Regions from separate parts of the Homo sapiens genome. Here region 2 is linked to region 1. The links come from fine-mapping of genetic effects on gene expression. Tissue or cell type: whole blood. Region 1 holds a variant in brackets; the other region holds the start of a gene. All regions are shown on one strand. Distances are between the middles of the regions.

Evidence for each region. PIP is the estimated chance that this variant, and not a neighbour inherited with it, causes the effect.
Region 2: PDIA5 starts here. The variant in region 1 is fine-mapped to the expression of PDIA5 in whole blood (INTERVAL, PIP above 0.99).

Annotation. Positions count from the first base shown.
Region 1 is chr3:123,119,233-123,127,336 of GRCh38, forward strand. PDIA5 (protein disulfide isomerase family A member 5) reads left to right here. Exons shown (of 17, transcript NM_006810.4): 9 at 4,834-4,925; 10 at 5,040-5,111. Among named protein-coding and RNA genes, the nearest start is that of MIR7110, 39 kb to the right of the region's middle. The variant G/A (reference allele first, on the strand shown) is at 4,177.
Region 2 is chr3:123,063,651-123,071,754 of GRCh38, forward strand. It overlaps PDIA5 (protein disulfide isomerase family A member 5), which reads left to right and starts at 3,375. Exons shown (of 17, transcript NM_006810.4): 1 at 3,375-3,556. The coding sequence starts at 3,515. RefSeq lists a silencer at 3,430-3,669.

The DNA.
Region 1 (8,104 bases):
GTGAGATCCTGTCTCTAAAAAAAAGAAAAAATGAATTCCAGCTTCTTCTGCCTGGGCCCAGGTCTAGAAATATAAAAGTTACCCATTCCAGTTCCCTCAACATTACAGAAAAGTCAGGGGCGTTGTCTGCAAAGCTGGGCAAGTCAAGCTGTGACCAGGTGTTGGCTGCCTTGGCCTAAGACATCTGGGTTGTGTAAACTCATTTCTTTGTTTGTATATTTTCTTGCTTGGGGTTTGTTTTGTTCTATTTTCCCTTTCATTTCCTAGAAAAGCATCTTCTGGAAAGTTCTAGCCCTTTCCCAGCTACATAAAGAGGGAAGGGCCCTGGCCGCTGCACGCATCACCCACGCAGGAGGCCCCTAGAGGCTAGGGCTTACTCTGCAGGGGCAGCTCCCCAGAAACTGGGGACCTGGCTGGAGGGGTTGAGTGACCACAGGTGTCAATTGCTTTTTGTCTTCACACACAGAAAAGAGGTGGGACTAATAAATGGGCTGCTATTCCCCAGAAATCAAAGTTCACCCCCTCCTCGCTGCTGAAACACAGCTGGATTAGGGCCTTCTGTCACTTCTTCATCTCTGTCATCTTTGAGCCTTTTTGGCTGGGTCTGTCTCTGGCAAGGGTCAAAAATCTTCCTCCTCTACAGATTTTTTGGGAGGTGTTCAACCTGATTGACATCATTAGGAAGGAAGGCATGCCAGGTCAGGGATGCACAGCCTTTGCCATTTCCAAACTTACAGCTGCCTCTTTTGTGCTGTCATTGACGTCTGGTGACTCATCGCGTCTGTCCCATCTACTCCTGCTAATTGACATCCTCATTAGCAGCCACGCTGCCCCCATCTCAGAGCAGCCATCAGAATGAGCCCTGTCTCCATCTGCCTCTTCCCAGCCTTGCCAGTTATTGACATCTGCACTGAGCCTTTGAGCTTTGCCTAGTCTTTGGTGGACCTCGGCCATGATGGGCCAGTCTGGGTATAAACACCATGAAATAGAACCATCATGACGACAGATTTGTACAGACCAGGCTCTAGTGCTGGCTCTTGCTAACCAGCTGGGAGATCTTGGTCCAAGCTCCTTAGCCTTGGAGCCTCCATTTCTCCATCTGTAAAATGGAGATGATAATGCCAACCCTGCCCACACTGGGTTGTGGTGAGGAACAAATGGGCTGTGTGGAAGAAGCCCTGTACCCCACAGAGCACTCATAGACACAGATGACTGATCCCCTCTCTTCCCTACAGCTGCCCTGCACCACATTCCTTCCACCGGCTAGATGGGGGTGCTCCCAAGGTTCCGCTTTCCTGTTAACACATTGGAGCAAGGTTTTGTCTTATTACAGTCTACCTTCCAGTGACCACATCTCTGTCCATAGCTTCAACAAAACGTAGCTCCATGGAGCCCAAGTCCTTCCCCTAAGTGCCAGTGCCACGTGTCAGATGGCTTGCTTCACAGCTCCATCTGGATTTTTTCCCTTGTGTCTCAAATGCATGTCTGAAAATTCAGTATCTTTCCATCTGGCAGACTGTGAACTTTGCATTAAGTCCTTTCCCCAGGGGCCAGGCTCTTTCCCCACCCCCCACCTCCACCTCTCTTTACTGAGGCATCATCAGGCATCTTCCTCATGCACCCTTCATCCTCTCCCTGCCCACCAGCCCTGTCCAGTGGGCTATGCTAGCTGGTGGCCAAAGGCTGCTGACTTGTCTCCTGACCACAGCATTCCCTCATAGCTCGTCCTTTCTGCTTCGAGAGATACAACTGGTTTGAGGGTTGCTTTCTTACTTAGAAACCCTCGGGAGCTCTCCGTCACTTCCTGAATACAGTCCCGATTTCTTAGGTATTTCAAGCCTTTCCCAAAGTGATCCTGGCCAACTCACTCAGCCTTTTCTTTCATGTCTTCTCCTTTCTGTGTATCCTGCCTTCCAGTTAGATGGAAATGTGCTCCATTTCTTGGGCCACATCTTTCTTTGCCTTGCCTCCAGTTCCCCATCCCGGGACGTCTGTTGAAATCTTACTCTCCTCTGAGTGCAAGCTCACATGCAGCCCACGCTAAGAAGCTGCCGTGATGGTTCCTGGCAGCAGGGCTGAACACACAGAAGAGCATGTCACGCCAGCTGAGTGGCCCCAAGCATGCAGATGGCAGTGGGGAGCAGGGAGGCTGTGTTCTTATCTTCTCCACAGGCCGAGACCAGGTGTGTCACCTCATTTGACTTCACAAATTCTAACTCCAGAAAGTGTTTGTATGTAGTTTTTCAAAAATTTTTGCCTCATTAACTAATAGATGCCCCCAAAATGGCACAAAAGTGCTACAGAAACTTGGAGAATTAAGAGCTCACCCCAAGCGAAGGTGGTTTGCAAAGGCTGCCCAGAGACGTGAGGTTTGATTTGCCTTAAGGGATGGGTGAGTCTGGAGGGTCGCCAGGAGGCGGGGGATGGGCAGCCTCAGTAAGGGGACTGGAAGGCACCAAGTGGGGGCCAGGAGAGAACAGCGAGTGTTCCAGAAGTGTGGGCAGAAATAGAGCACCTCCTAGTCCTAGTAACAAAAATAGCTAATACATTTTGTGTTATTGATTATCTTGTATTATTTCATTGAATCTTCTCAACAACCACATGAGGTGGCTGCAGATGAGGAAAGTGAGACGCAGAGACAACTGTGACTCATTCAAGGAAATGCGCGACCCCATGGGGAGTTGGGACTCAAACCCAGGCATCCTGAGTCCATGCTTCCAGCCACTGCATGTTGCTGCTGCACTCAGCAAGATGTCTGAGAAGGCAGACAGTCCAACTTCCTTCCTGTGCAGAAATCTCAGACTGTCTTATTCCTGGGAGAATAAAAAATCTAGACCCTAACAGGTGTACAATGAAGAGTTTTGTAAGAAAGAAAGATTCAAAAATGAAATAGGTAACATATGGGCATTGAATGTGGAGCTGGATTTTAGCCTATATTCAATGGAATTGGAAGGTTTTGTGCAGGGAAGTGATGTAATGAGCGAGGAGGACGTGTAAGATTAATCTGTGGTGAATGTGCACTGACACTGGGGAGATCAATTAGGCAGAAAAAAAAAGGACTTTTAAAGAAGACAAATATTACTGGAACAGGCCGCTGGAGCAGTCTGGGAAATGAGCAGAATGACTTTTATAGAGCGTTCCAGGGCTTCAAGTAAATTCGAATTCAAATTTATTCTTCCTGTATTATTTGCTGCATCCTAAAATGGGCTAGGAAAAAAAAAACAGTGAATTTAGTGAGCATTTATTGTGTCCTTGCTGTATGTGAGGCCTTGTGCTAGGGACTTAAAACAATTGGAAAGATATCCAGGTGCCCCTAGGAATGGAGAGGCCAGAGGCACAGTGGCTCCCATCACCAGGAAGACTTGGTAGGAAGATGACAGTTACTGAGCTCCAGTTTTGTGCTAAAACCTCTCATCTCATTTAGTTCTCTAAAGAGCCCTTTGATGGTCACATCTTCCAGCAAGGGACCTCAGTGAGGGTGAGTGACTTGCCCAAGGTCACATGACTCATAAGTGGAAGCTGTCTTTGCAATCAATTTATTGTCCACTGAAACGGTTATTTATTTTCCTCTCTCTCTGTGTCCTTATGTATTATTCAGTAAAGTTCAGCTTCCTGGGTTTCTTCTCTCTGCTTCTGTAACTACTGCTGGCTTTTTTTACTTACTTTTCCCTCGCTTCTATGCCACTCTGCTTTGTGGAACAACCTTTGTGTGTCGGGCCATTCTAGCTGTGTTCTCTGGTAAGAACAGATTCAAAGTCCTGGCTGGGCATGCTGGCTCATGCCTGTAATTCCAGTGCTTTGGGAGGTTGAAGTGGGAGGATCGCTTGAGCCCAGGAGTTGGAAGCCAGCCTGGGCAACACAGCAAGACCTCATCTCTACCAAAAAGAAAAATATACTAGCCGGACATACTGCCACATGTCTGTGGTCCCAGCTAATCAGGAGGCTGACAGCGGAGGATTGCTTGAGCCCAGGAGTTAGAGGGTGCAGTGAGCTATGATCATGCCACTGCAGAGGGAGTTTTAGGGGATTCCTTATATGAGTCAGTCTTAGTATTTAGCTACATCGTCGGTTACCCAGCTACTAAAATACTCTTTCTGATTCAGGGATAGTGGACATGTGGACCCCTGGAGCCAGAATATGTTCAGAATTCTGAGATGATGATCCAGCCAGGCTGTG[G/A]GTAATGGTCACCAACAGGAGGAAACACTGGGGAGACACAGCACGGCCTGGAAGGAGGAGAGTTAGGCAGGTGCCTCGTTTCTCATGTTGTGTTATGAGAACCACACGGCCTCCCTGGCCACATATAAGCTGTGAGGTTTGGAAACGTCACACTCAAGCCTAGGTGAGCAAACCGTGAGGTATCCAGGAAGGTGTCTAAGGACGTTGTACAGAGCTGAATTGGTGTATGAAAGCCACTTATTTCCATAGCCTAGGAAAGAGTACAACCCGAGTTGACATGAACAGAGAAATAGGCGTAACACATCCTTGGCAGTGGCCCCTCTCTGAGAGTAATGTGAACTTGATGGCAAGGCCCGGCTTCTTCTGCAACCCTCAGAACGTTGGTTTTGCTCTGGGGTGGTTCTTCCTGCAGGGAGGCAGAGGGAGCAGGCGTGCGGAGTGCAGCACTCGGCCCAGCTGCCTGACTTCTCCAGCGCCAGGTCATGATTCCCGGCTGGCTTCGCTGGCCTTGTTTCTCAGCAGCCCTGATGCACATCAGTCTGTGGGGCTTTGTCCCATATGTCTTTCTGGTGGGACAGCAGCTGGACAGATGGCGTGTGGACTAGAGGGTGTCTGTGGGGCACAGGCTCCACACGGCTCTTCTCCGCTTCCTCCCAGGTGCTGGCCGGGATGAATGTCTACTCCTCTGAATTTGAAAACATCAAGGAGGAGTACAGCGTGCGCGGCTTCCCCACCATCTGCTATTTTGAGTACGTCCCCCACTTTCCTTCTAAAGCTCACCTCCCTCCCTGGTGATTGACCATAATCTCAGGGTGGCATTTGCATCCGTGACTGAGCCCACGTTGTTTCTCCACGTTTCACAGGAAAGGACGGTTCTTGTTCCAGTATGACAACTATGGGTCCACAGCTGAGGACATTGTGGAGTGGCTGAAGAAGTAAGTGGGGTGTGTGTGTGTCAGTGGGCGTGGACCCAGAGGGCGGGGCATCTGCCGGGCCTGAGGGTCGCAGGGCTCTGGCTGGAGGTTGGGGGAAAGAATGAGGAAGGGAATTGTGGTACTGCCTACACAGCTGTCTCTGGCTTGAGTCTAGGCCACTGTGGGGATTGTGGGAATTTAGGTTGCAGGAGCCATGAGGATTTGGTGTGACTTTGGCCTGTGATGATCAGACCTGCCTGGGTGTTGGGTGTGGAGTCTGTCTCCCCTACCTCCCGTCTCCACGGGTTGGAACTGGGGAGGGGCTGCCTAAGCCTGTCAGCTCTTCTGGAATAGTCAGGGCCTTTCTGAATTCTTCCCACATTTCACATCAAGTTTCTCCTCAACACATCTATCTGATGGATAGAGGTATTTCTCACCCAGGCTACCAGGTTTGAGAGAGGTTCCACTGCAGGTCTCTCTGAAAATAGAATTGTCAGTTGAACACTTATTTCAAACACAGCACTGTCTTAGGTGCTGTGAAGGTACTAAGAAATATTCTAATGCCTTAGGTTTGCTGAGTGCTTTACTGTTCAACCCCCACAGGCATTGCTTCATTGCAACCTGTGATCCCTGTTTTATAACATGATTAGATCCTTGTAATGCCAAACCCCACCACCCTGTTGGCTCCTGCCTCCTTACCTGGAGCCTCCACTGTGCTAGGCCTGCTGCTTTGTCCTGCCAGATCACCCCATTCCCACTTCTCACCAGCACTTCCACGACAGGCTCACGATGTCCCCTTCTGGAAGCCTCCCCAGGCCACCCTCGCTGAGCACGCACCCTACTCAGGCTGCGCTCTGTGTGTCACGAGTTTGGCACTTACCAGCCACTGCTGCTTCATGAGTATTTGTGCATATGTGCTGGAGTAACAACAGCCAACATCTTTTGGGCTCTCCTTTGTGGCTGACATTGTTCTAAGCACTTTACATGGATTCTCATTTAATCCTCACAACAGCACTGTAAGGAAGATGTTACCGTTCTCTTCATTTTATGAATGAGGTCCCTGAGGCACAGTAAAGGGGTGGTGCCGGTAAGCAGTAGCAGGGCCCTGATGGGTCCCCGCCACCAACCCAGCTCCCTGCAGCCCCGACAGTCCAACTTAGCCTCCTCAAGTTCTGCTCGGAGCCCCTCCCCTCAGCTGCCGGCACAGTGGACATTTATTGACATCATTACCTTAGGAACACAGTGTGCAAACCCCAGGGTTAAAGAATTAGTTATCCAAGATATGGAGGTTGAAAATGTGTATTTTCAAAATGGGAAAGAAGGGTGGGTTTTGTACCAGGAAAAAAATGCACATGAAACTAACTGTTAGATTTCTAAAGGTGGAGAGTCTCCATCTTCTGTTCTGCCTACTCTCGGGAGATAAGGCACAAGTGCTAGCACATGTTTGCATCATGTCTTTTATTTCTTGGAAGCATTCTCACATCTCTGTCCCCATCGGCTACCTCATTTCCAGCCCCTGCCTGGGAAGGCTGCTGCCCATTATCATGTGTTCATTGTCTTAACCTGGGCCTTTGCTTTCCTGTTTTCCTTTTTCATTTGATAATAAGCGTGTCCTCTCCTCTATCCAGACACATCTCATTCTGCTTTGGGAGAAGGTCTCAACAAATAGCAATCTCATTTGTCACTAGAGCATAAAATCTGTCTGCTTCCCTTCCCTTCTCTAACCTTTTCTGATTTCAAAACACCCTCATATCTTTTTTGGAAGGATAAGGTTTATGTGGTTTTTTTTAAGTATTCAGAATTACCTGCTAACCCTAGACAAAGGGAGCACATCAATGGTGTTTCTGAAACAGGCTATTATCTCCCCGCTGGAGCCTCCTACTCCATCCTCCCACCCCTCTCCTCTCGGCACACCCCATCCCGGCTCCCCCACCCGCATTGCTCCGGCTGGCCTGCACCCCACAGCTGCCTCCAGTCTCTGGTCCTGGGTACCCCATCCCCACTTCCTACTTCCCCCCATCCCCCGCTGTGGGAGAGAAGGAGCTCTTGTTAACGGCCTTATCCTCTGCAAGAGCTAGTAATGTCATTCTGCTACCAGCTGGCTTAATTTTTTAAAGTCTTTTCTGATTTCAGAGATACTCAACTAAGATAGGCTTATTATAGAAAAACCTAAAAGTGTGGTTAAACAAAAAGTCCTCCCCCACCCTATTACCCAAAGATAGCATATTGTTATTATTTCCCCTACATAGATCTAGCTCTGCATGTGGGTTTTCCCGGTCCCACATGGATTAAGCCTTTTCCAGTTTCCCCTCACATCCTTTTGGGCAGTAGTGACCTCATCTTTCCTGCTTCTCTAGGTTTCTCCATTGGCTCTTAGCTGCTCAGGGCTTCTGTGCAGCCAAGTATACAAAGATGAGGGTGAAGCCAGCCTAGCTAATTCTCCAAATGGCTCTCAAATGCCTAGGAGAGAAGACCTAGGTCCTGCCCTTCAATGCGTGACTCTGGTGGTTGGACCAGGGAAGGGTGGCACCAGGTGAGGCAGGGCAGGGAGTCAGCCCCTGGCATCTGAGTGTATGAGGGCTCTGGAGTAGATGTGTTGATCGTGGCACTGGTGTCTTTTGTGTTCCTAATGGCCACGTATCTCATTGGCCACTTGAAGCTGTCACTGGTGAGTTGGGCTAGCAGACAGGTGGAGGGGTACATAAGCAGTGATCCATTTTGGGCAGGGTCATTTTGGCCTGTGTAGCTTTATGCCAACCAGAAGTGAACTGAATTAGCAAACACCAAGTTTTCTGGACTCGTAATGCTTAGAGTTGCATCTTCTCATCTATGGCACATGCATCTCCCTTAGATGAGGTTCTGATTGTGTGACCCTCCCAGTCCTAGAGAGCCTGGAACAATTGCTCTCTCCAAACTGCAGAGCTCATGAAATCAGTCGCATGAAGGCAGATCAGAAGGGAACATACAAGTCATCAAATCTGCACCAGCAATTCTCCTTTCAATGTTTGCATTTC
Region 2 (8,104 bases), 56 kb before region 1:
TAGGGCTGCCGTAACAGACCACCATAGGCTGGGTGGCTTAAATGACAGAGGTTGTTTTTTATTATTATTATTATTCTGAAAGCTAGAAATCCACGATCAAGCTTTTGGCAGGGTTGATTTCTTCTGAGGGCCTCTCTCCTTGGCGTGTCACTGGCCATTCTGTCTTCTCTCTGTGTCCTCACATGGTCTTTCCTCTGTATATGTGTCCTACTGTCCTCTTTTTGTAAGGATACCAGCCATATGGGATTAGGGTCCACCACAATGACCTCATTTAACCTTAATTACCTCTTCAAAGGCTCTAAGTACGGTCATATTCTGATGTAGTAAGGGTTAGTTAGGACTTCAACATATGAATTTGGGGGGGACACAAGTCCATAACAGCTTCTGTGAATAAAGCTGCCATGAACATTTTGGCTCAGATTTTGTACATGTACAGTTGTCCAAAGTAGGTGAGCCAATTTACACTCCCACAGCAATGCGTGAGTGTTCCAGTAGCTCTGCATCCTCACCAACTGCTTCATTTGACAGATGAGAAACAGAGACCCACAGAGAGGGGTGCAAATCTCACTTTCCCATGTGCAGGTCATAAGTTCGAGGTTGCAGAGCAGAGCATGCCAAGGAAGCCCTGTCCCCAAACTGCTTTAGGAATTTCTGACACTTCCCAACACATTACTTAGCTCAATCATTCAGTCATTCATCAAAAAGAACAGTGAGAACCATCTGTGGCTCCGTCCTGTGCTAGGTCCTGGAAGCAAGGTGATGAACAGAGGGACAGGAAACTGACATTCAGGTTGGAGCAAGAGACAATGAACACAAGGACTCAGTAAGTCTTGTGGGTTTTGGTAGGTGCTGGGCAAAGAAGCAACAGAACCTAAGCAGAAGTTGAGATAGAGAAAAAGGAGCTTGGCAGTGGGGAGGGTAAACTCACCTGTAGATGGGCTGCTCTGAAGGGCATCTCTGAGAGGGGATAGATAGGAGAACCCTGAAGGATACAAAGGCGCCAGCCAGACAAAGGCCAAGGAAATTGCCAAGGCAAAGAGAATGGGAGGAGCACAAGCCCTGAGGCAGGAGCAGCTCTGGAGAGGGGAGGGGTGAGGAAATGATGGTCTGTGTAACTGGACCCAGTGGACAGGGGTTGTGGGAGGCAGGAGATGAGGTCTACCGGGCGGGCGAGGGCCTAGACCATGCAGGGCTTGCAGGTCTTGGGAAGAGTTTGGATTTTATTCTAAGGGTAATGGGAAACCACTGGAGGGTTTCAGGGGAGGGGCAAGCAAGATCCAACTGACATTAACATATGGATGGCATGGGGGAGAAGCAGGCACACTCTTTCAGAAACTGTTACCCTTCCCTAGGTGATAGTCACTTAGACTTGGGAGGTGGCAGGAGAGATATATTCTGGAGGTAAAATTGACAGGATGTGGTGAGGGGTTGGATGGGCCTGTTGTGAATAGGAAGCGAGTAATGGATAACTTCTAAGTTTTGAGCTTTGACTCTCCTGACAGAAGGCAAGGACCTTTCAGCTATAACTTACCAACCTCTGACTGTGCTGTTCTCTTGTTCATCTCACTACTGGATATCTTGAGCCTCAGGACATAGTAAGTGTTCAATAAACATTCTTGAATGTATGAACTGACTGCATGCAAGAATGCTTTAGCACAGCAGGGCCCAACCTTTTTGTCACCAGGGACCGGTTTTGTGGAAGACAAGTTTTCCACAGATGGTGGGGGGACAGGGGATGGTTTTGGGATGAAACTGTTCTATCTCGGATCATCAGGCATTAGATTCTCATAAGGCACCCACAACCTAGATTTCTTGAATGTGCAGTTCACAATAGAGTTCACACTCCTATGAGAATCTAATGCCACCACTGATCTGACAGGAGGCAGAGCTCAGGTGGTAATGCTCGCTGGCCCACAGCTTGCCTCCTGGTTCCTAACAGGCCACAGACTGTCCAGAGGCCCAGCGTTTGGGGACCCCTGCTTTAGCACAGGGAATGGGTTCAATAAAGAGTTTTTTTCTTTTGAAAATTTTTACTCAGGTAAAATTCACATAACATCAATTAACCATTTTAAAGTGTACAGTTTAGTGGCATTTAGTACCTTCACAATGTTGTGGAACCATCATCTCCATCTAGTTCCAAAATGTTTTATCACTCCCAAAGGAGTCCCTATACTCATTAAGCAGTCATTCCCCATTCCTTCCTCCCCACCCCCACTACTATGCTTTCTGTCTCTGTGGATTTACCTATTCTAAATATTTCATAAGATGTAATCACATCATATGTGACTTTTTGTGTCTGGCTTCTTTCATTAGCATACATTTCTGAGATTCATTCATTGTAGAATGTATTAGCATTTTATTCTCTCCCCCCCACCTTTTTTTTTTTTTTTTTTTTTGAGACAGGGTCTCACCCTGTGGCCTAGGCTGGGGTGCAGTGGCATGATCTTGGCTCACTGCAGTCTCCATATCCCAGGTTCAAGCAATCCTCCCGCCTTAGCCTCCCAAGTAGTTGGAACTACAGTCCCTTGCCACCACACCAGCTATTTTATTTTATTTTATTTTTATTTTTAGCAGAGATGAGGTCTTGCTATGTTGCCCAGGCTGGTTTCAAACTCCTAGTCTTACACGATTCTGCTGCCTCAGCTTTCCAAAGTGTTGGGATTACAGTCATGAGCTGCCCTGCTGGGCCACTTTATTCCTTTTAATGGCTAAATAACATTCCATTAGATGGATGTATCACACTTTGTTTACCCATTCATCCTTTGACAGACGTTAGAGTTGTTTCTACCTTTTGGTTATTGTAAATAGTGTTGCTGTGAACACTGGTGTACGTGCATTTGTCTGAATACCTGTTTTCAATTCTTTTGGGTATTAGCCTAAGGGTGGAATTGCTGGTCATATAGTAATCTATGTTTAACTTTTTGAGGAACCACCAGATTGTTTTCCAACAGCTCAATAATGTTTTACTGAAGTTAAATAGAATAAGCAGGAGGGAGTCTGGGAGGCAGGGATGAGGGCTTTTCCTGTCCTTCACAGGCAGCCCTGGACTCTGCCATTTACCGGCTGTGTGATCTGGATCAACGTACTTAAATTCCCTGCGCTGCCTCCTAATCCTCAAAGTGGAGAAAATAAAACCTAATTTCTGTGAGCTGCGTGAGATACTGTTTCTGAAGCTCCAGGCACAGAGTAAGCCCCCGCTCATTAATTGCCTTCCCTTACTCCCTGACCTTGCCTTTTCGCACTTCACTCGCTGCCACGTGGCCTCGGAGCCCAGTCCGCACCCGCAGCCCCCAGCTGAGCCAGGCTGCAGACTACAACTCCCAGCGAGCACTTCTTCCCGGCCGCCTCTCCCCAGCTGCTGCGCATGCTTTGGCAGACGTGGCACCGGGAACTCGGAGGCGGGGAGCGGCTGGGAAGTGGCCGTGGTGGTTGGCCGCGGTGGAGCTAGCAGGCGGGCGGGCGGGAGCGGGCGCCGGAGTGGAGAAAGGAGCCAGCGGTGGGCAGCGCTGCTGGGATGGCGCGGGCCGGGCCGGCGTGGCTGCTGCTGGCAATCTGGGTGAGACTGTGGGGCAGGGATCCGGGCCGGGCCAGCACGTGTGTCCCGCGTGCCCTTCTGCGCTCTCTGCTCCAGCCCTCTGCGGAACGTGCGGGGAGCTGCCCCGGGGCACCGGGATGAGGGCGTGCATGCCAGGCAGGCGGGCACTGGGTGCTACGCGGGAGACAGCGGGCGTCCCGGTGCCCTCGCCGCCAAGCGCTCCCGGACGCAGGGGCAGGAGGCAGCTGTGGGGCGCCGGGAGATCCCTGGCAGGGTGCTTACGCCACGGCCACAACTTTGCGGGGATGCAGGTCGGGGCACAGCCGGTCGGGCAGGACGCCGGCGGGCTGCGGGGTGAGCTCCGCTCCAGACTCCGAGCCCTGCACCTGTGTGAGTGCGGGGTGGGATGGGGGTGCTTACTACCTGCACTGCCGGAAACCTTGGTTTAGGGCCACCTTGTTCTTGGCTTCGGCCCCAGGCGTCTGGGAAACTGCGGGCCACCACCTGGGCCTCCGCCCACAGGCCAGGCTCGGTGGGCTGGGTGGGGTCGACGTAGCCCGCCCCGGCGGAGGAGCTGCTCCTACACCCAACTGAGGCGGGCTCGAGCCTCAGCCACTTTCTAGCTGTGTGACGCGGCGGTTCATTTAATGTATCTGAGCTAGTTTCCTCATGCATGATATAGAAAGGCAAAGCTACCCCCATAGGGTGGTTCTGAGAGTCGGATGAGGTCTCAGTGGAGGAAGCTGTGTAAACTGCAAAATCTTACAAAAGTGGAAAAGGAGTGGACTCCAAGAGTAGTTTGCTACACTTGGTGGGGGGGACTCCAGGCATCCCTGAGAGAGGTCGGAATGGGTGTGCCTGCCGGCCCAGGTCTGGGGTTTGGCCTTCGTTTCGCTGTGGGTGTGTGATGAGATATTGTGGCCTCCTTCCCCATCTTTTCCATAACTTATGCGCTCCCTTATTTTAGGACCATCCTGGTCCTTTTCCCCTGAAGTTCCAGGGAACTTCCTGTTCCTGGCACCCTCCCCCCAACCCAGATTTTCCCGTTCTTTTCCATTTGGGTGTGGCAAGGACACTGGGCAAATGGGAGGAGAAAAGTGTGGGTTGAGTTGCTTGAAACACTTCCATCTCCCAATACCCTGGCCTTTTGGATCACCAGTGAGGAGTGGCCTGGTACTCTCTGGTTGGAAGTGGGTGGGGAAAGAAGCCCCCTGTTCTCTTCGGTCTGTGTTCTCCCTCTTGGGGAGAACCAGGCTGGAGTGGGGCAGTGTCACTTAATTGCGTCTGGGTTTGTTGAATGCTGGTTTGCCATCAGTTCCCTGGAGCCAGTTGGTCTGGGCGGGTCTCTGGGCCAGGAGGAGGGAGCTATCTCCTGAAACGCCCCCCATCGGTCTTTGCACTTGGGCTGAGTAGGAGGTCCTGCTTTCCTCCCTTTCCCCTCCCTTTTGTGAAAACAAACGGCTTGAGAATCTGAAATTTCATTCGGCAGACATTTATTTGTCAATCACATTGTTTGGATTGATATTTTGCCCTCCACTGGGTTAGATTTTGGGCGGAGAGCAAAACACACATTGTACCTGCCGTCTGGTGTTGCCCTGGATTGGGCAAAGGAGTCAGTCCTGTGAGCAAATAATGACAGAACTGCAAGTGCTGTGACCTTAAGTACTAGTATCCTTCACTGAACCGGAGCCATACGTTGATTTAAAGGGAGGTCAGCCATGGCTTTCCTGAGGTGGTAGGGTTGAACAGAGTCTGAAAGATGTGTGGTAGTTAGCTAGGCAGTGGAGGGCTGCAGGTCCCCTTCACCAGGAGGTGCGGAAGAGCAGGTAGGTTTGCTGAAAGCACTAGAACCTGGGAGTCCTGAGCAAGCAATTTCTATCTTCTCCTTTCCCTAAGCCCTAGAGTTGGCTTAGCGGGTAGGAGGTGGAGGGAGCATGCCAACAGGAGCAGTGGTGAGTGATTGCTGGACAGCGCGTTGGGTCTTTGTAAATTTAAATGCTGTATCTATCTGATAAGTGCTCCCCAGGTTCCTGGAAGCCGGTTGGGTTTCTTTGTTCACTCAATATTTACTGAGGGCTGATATGTGCACAGGACTGGGCTGTGACCTGAAGGGTATAAAGGCATCTGCAGGGATTCGTGTACAGGGATATACACCCACCACATTTTTTACAATAGCAAAATGTGGAAATGGGTTAAATGCTCAATAATAGTGGCATGGTTAAATAATATCTGGCCTTGTCCATATCATGGAAAGTGATATTTATCTTTTTCAGTTTGGCCTGCTATAAGAAATATCCCATAGACTGGTGGTGTAGAACAATTGAAATGTATTTTTCACAGTTCTGCAGACCAAAAGTCCGAAATCAGGGTGCCAGCATGGTTGAATTCTAGTGAGGACCCTCCTCCAGAAGACTCTTGACTTCTCACTGTATTCTCATATGATAGAAAGAAGACTAGACAGTTCTCTTGGGTCCCTTTTTCAAGGGCACTAATCCTATTCATGAGCGATCCACCCTCATGACCTAATTACGTACCAAGGGCCCCACCTCCTAACACCACCACTTTGGGGGTTAGGATTTTAACATATGAATTTTCAGGGGAATGACAGAAATACTCAGTCCTGGCCGGGCACAGTTGCTCACACCTGTAATCCCAGCAGTTTGGGAGGCTGAGGCGGGTGGATCACCTGAGGTCAGGAGTTCGAGACCAGCCTGGCCAACATGGTGAAACCCCGTCTCTACTAAAAATACAAAAATTAGCCAAGCATGGTAGCGGGCGCCTGTAGTCCCAGCTACTCAGAAGGCTGAGGCAGGAGAATCGCTTGAACCCAGGAGGCAGAGGGTGCAGTGGGCTGAGATCGCGCCACTGCACTCCAGCCTGGGGGATGGAGCAAGACTCCATCTCAAAAAAAAAAAAAAAGAAGAAGAAGAAGAAGAAATATTCAGTCCATTGCAATGTTTATAAAGAATATTTTTATTTACCAGAATATTATGTTTATTATGAAAACATTTTATGATGTTTATGAAGAATATCTAAGGATGTGGAAAAATGCCCAAGTGTGATAAGTAAGGGAAAAGCAGGATGTAAAACCAAATCTGAGGGTGGCTGAAGTTACATGTATGAAGAATTAGTGCATCAAAATGTTAACAGTCATTGTTCTGGAAGGTGGAGTTGTGATGACTTCTGCTTCTTTGCTTATGCTTTTCTGTGGATTCCAAGTTTTTCACATGAATATGTATTAGTTTATAATCAGAAAAGTTAATAAAGATTTTTTAAAATGTTGCTTTGGGAACCCTTAGCCTTCCAAAAGAATACTGGGGAGGAAGGTGTCACTGTCAAACACGTGGGACAGGTTAGTTCCAAGAGCTTCCAGGCTGGGTGTCTGTGCCCTCAGAGGCTATGGGTGGCGGTGCCCTCCCTGCCAAGTGCTCCTGGACACAGGGGCAGGAGGTAGCCCTAGGGCACAGGGCGATCCCTGCCGAGCCATGCTGCCCTGCTCCCATCCCTGCGCTGACTGCCTGCTTTCCTGCTGTCCAGCTCAGCTCATCCCTGCAGCTGACTCTTCTCTAGGGCCGTCCATGCTGATTGTCCTGTTGGCTCCATCCAGCCTGTAGGATGGAGAAACGTCGAGCTGGAGTGAACTCTAGGTCTCCTAGCTCAGTGGTTCTCAAGCATTGGGCCAAGGACTGAAGCTGGGCTGGGATAGAGTTTTCTGGTCTGCAGTCAAACTGGAAAAAAAAAATGGTGTATTTTTTTGTTTGTTTGTTTTTCATGAATGCAAATGTTTTCAGTTTAAAAAGTTGTCAATTTTTCTGACATGACGATATTTTGAGGGGGAGGGGGTTACAGCATCCCTTTGAAAAATGAGGCTGGTTGTAGTATATTGTGATTTCTTTTTAAAAGCCCTTTCTTGATAAAATTTATTTTTAATAATATAAAATCCATTTTATATTTAAAAATATATATATTCTGCTGATCTGTGAGATTCAGAACTGATCTAACTCAGCCTTCTCCTTTTATAGGAGAATAGCGAGGCTTAGGGAGGGAAGGGACTCACTCAAGGCCACCCAGTTAGTGAAGGCAGAGCTGGGAGAAGAGCCAGATCTGCTGAATGTAAATCGGGTTCTTCCCACTCATCCATCTCCCGCCTGCTTCTCTGCCTCTGCCCCTGATGGTCGCTTGAAGCTCAGACCCTGGAGGACAGTGGGTGGAGGTGCAGGAGGCAGATGTTTGTTCCTGGCATCTCCTGTAGAGCTTTTAAGGTACACTTATTTAGGTTCTGTACTTCTCTGGGACGATTATATATTTAATAGGCTTTTGTGGGTTGGCCTGAGGACTGAATTGCCATTTAAAATGCTGTTTGGAACCTGTAGTGCACATTTCCCACAGAAATAAACACATTACAGCGGAAGTCTTAAAACAGACCCGGCATATAAGGTGGAAGTGTGGCTGAGTGCCATAAGAGTGGCAGCCCCTGTGTGCTGGGGATCCAGGACGAGGCCAAGCAGTGGGACACCGAGTGATCAGAGAAGGCCCCAGGAAAGAGCAAGGTGTGGACTGGCCTCACAA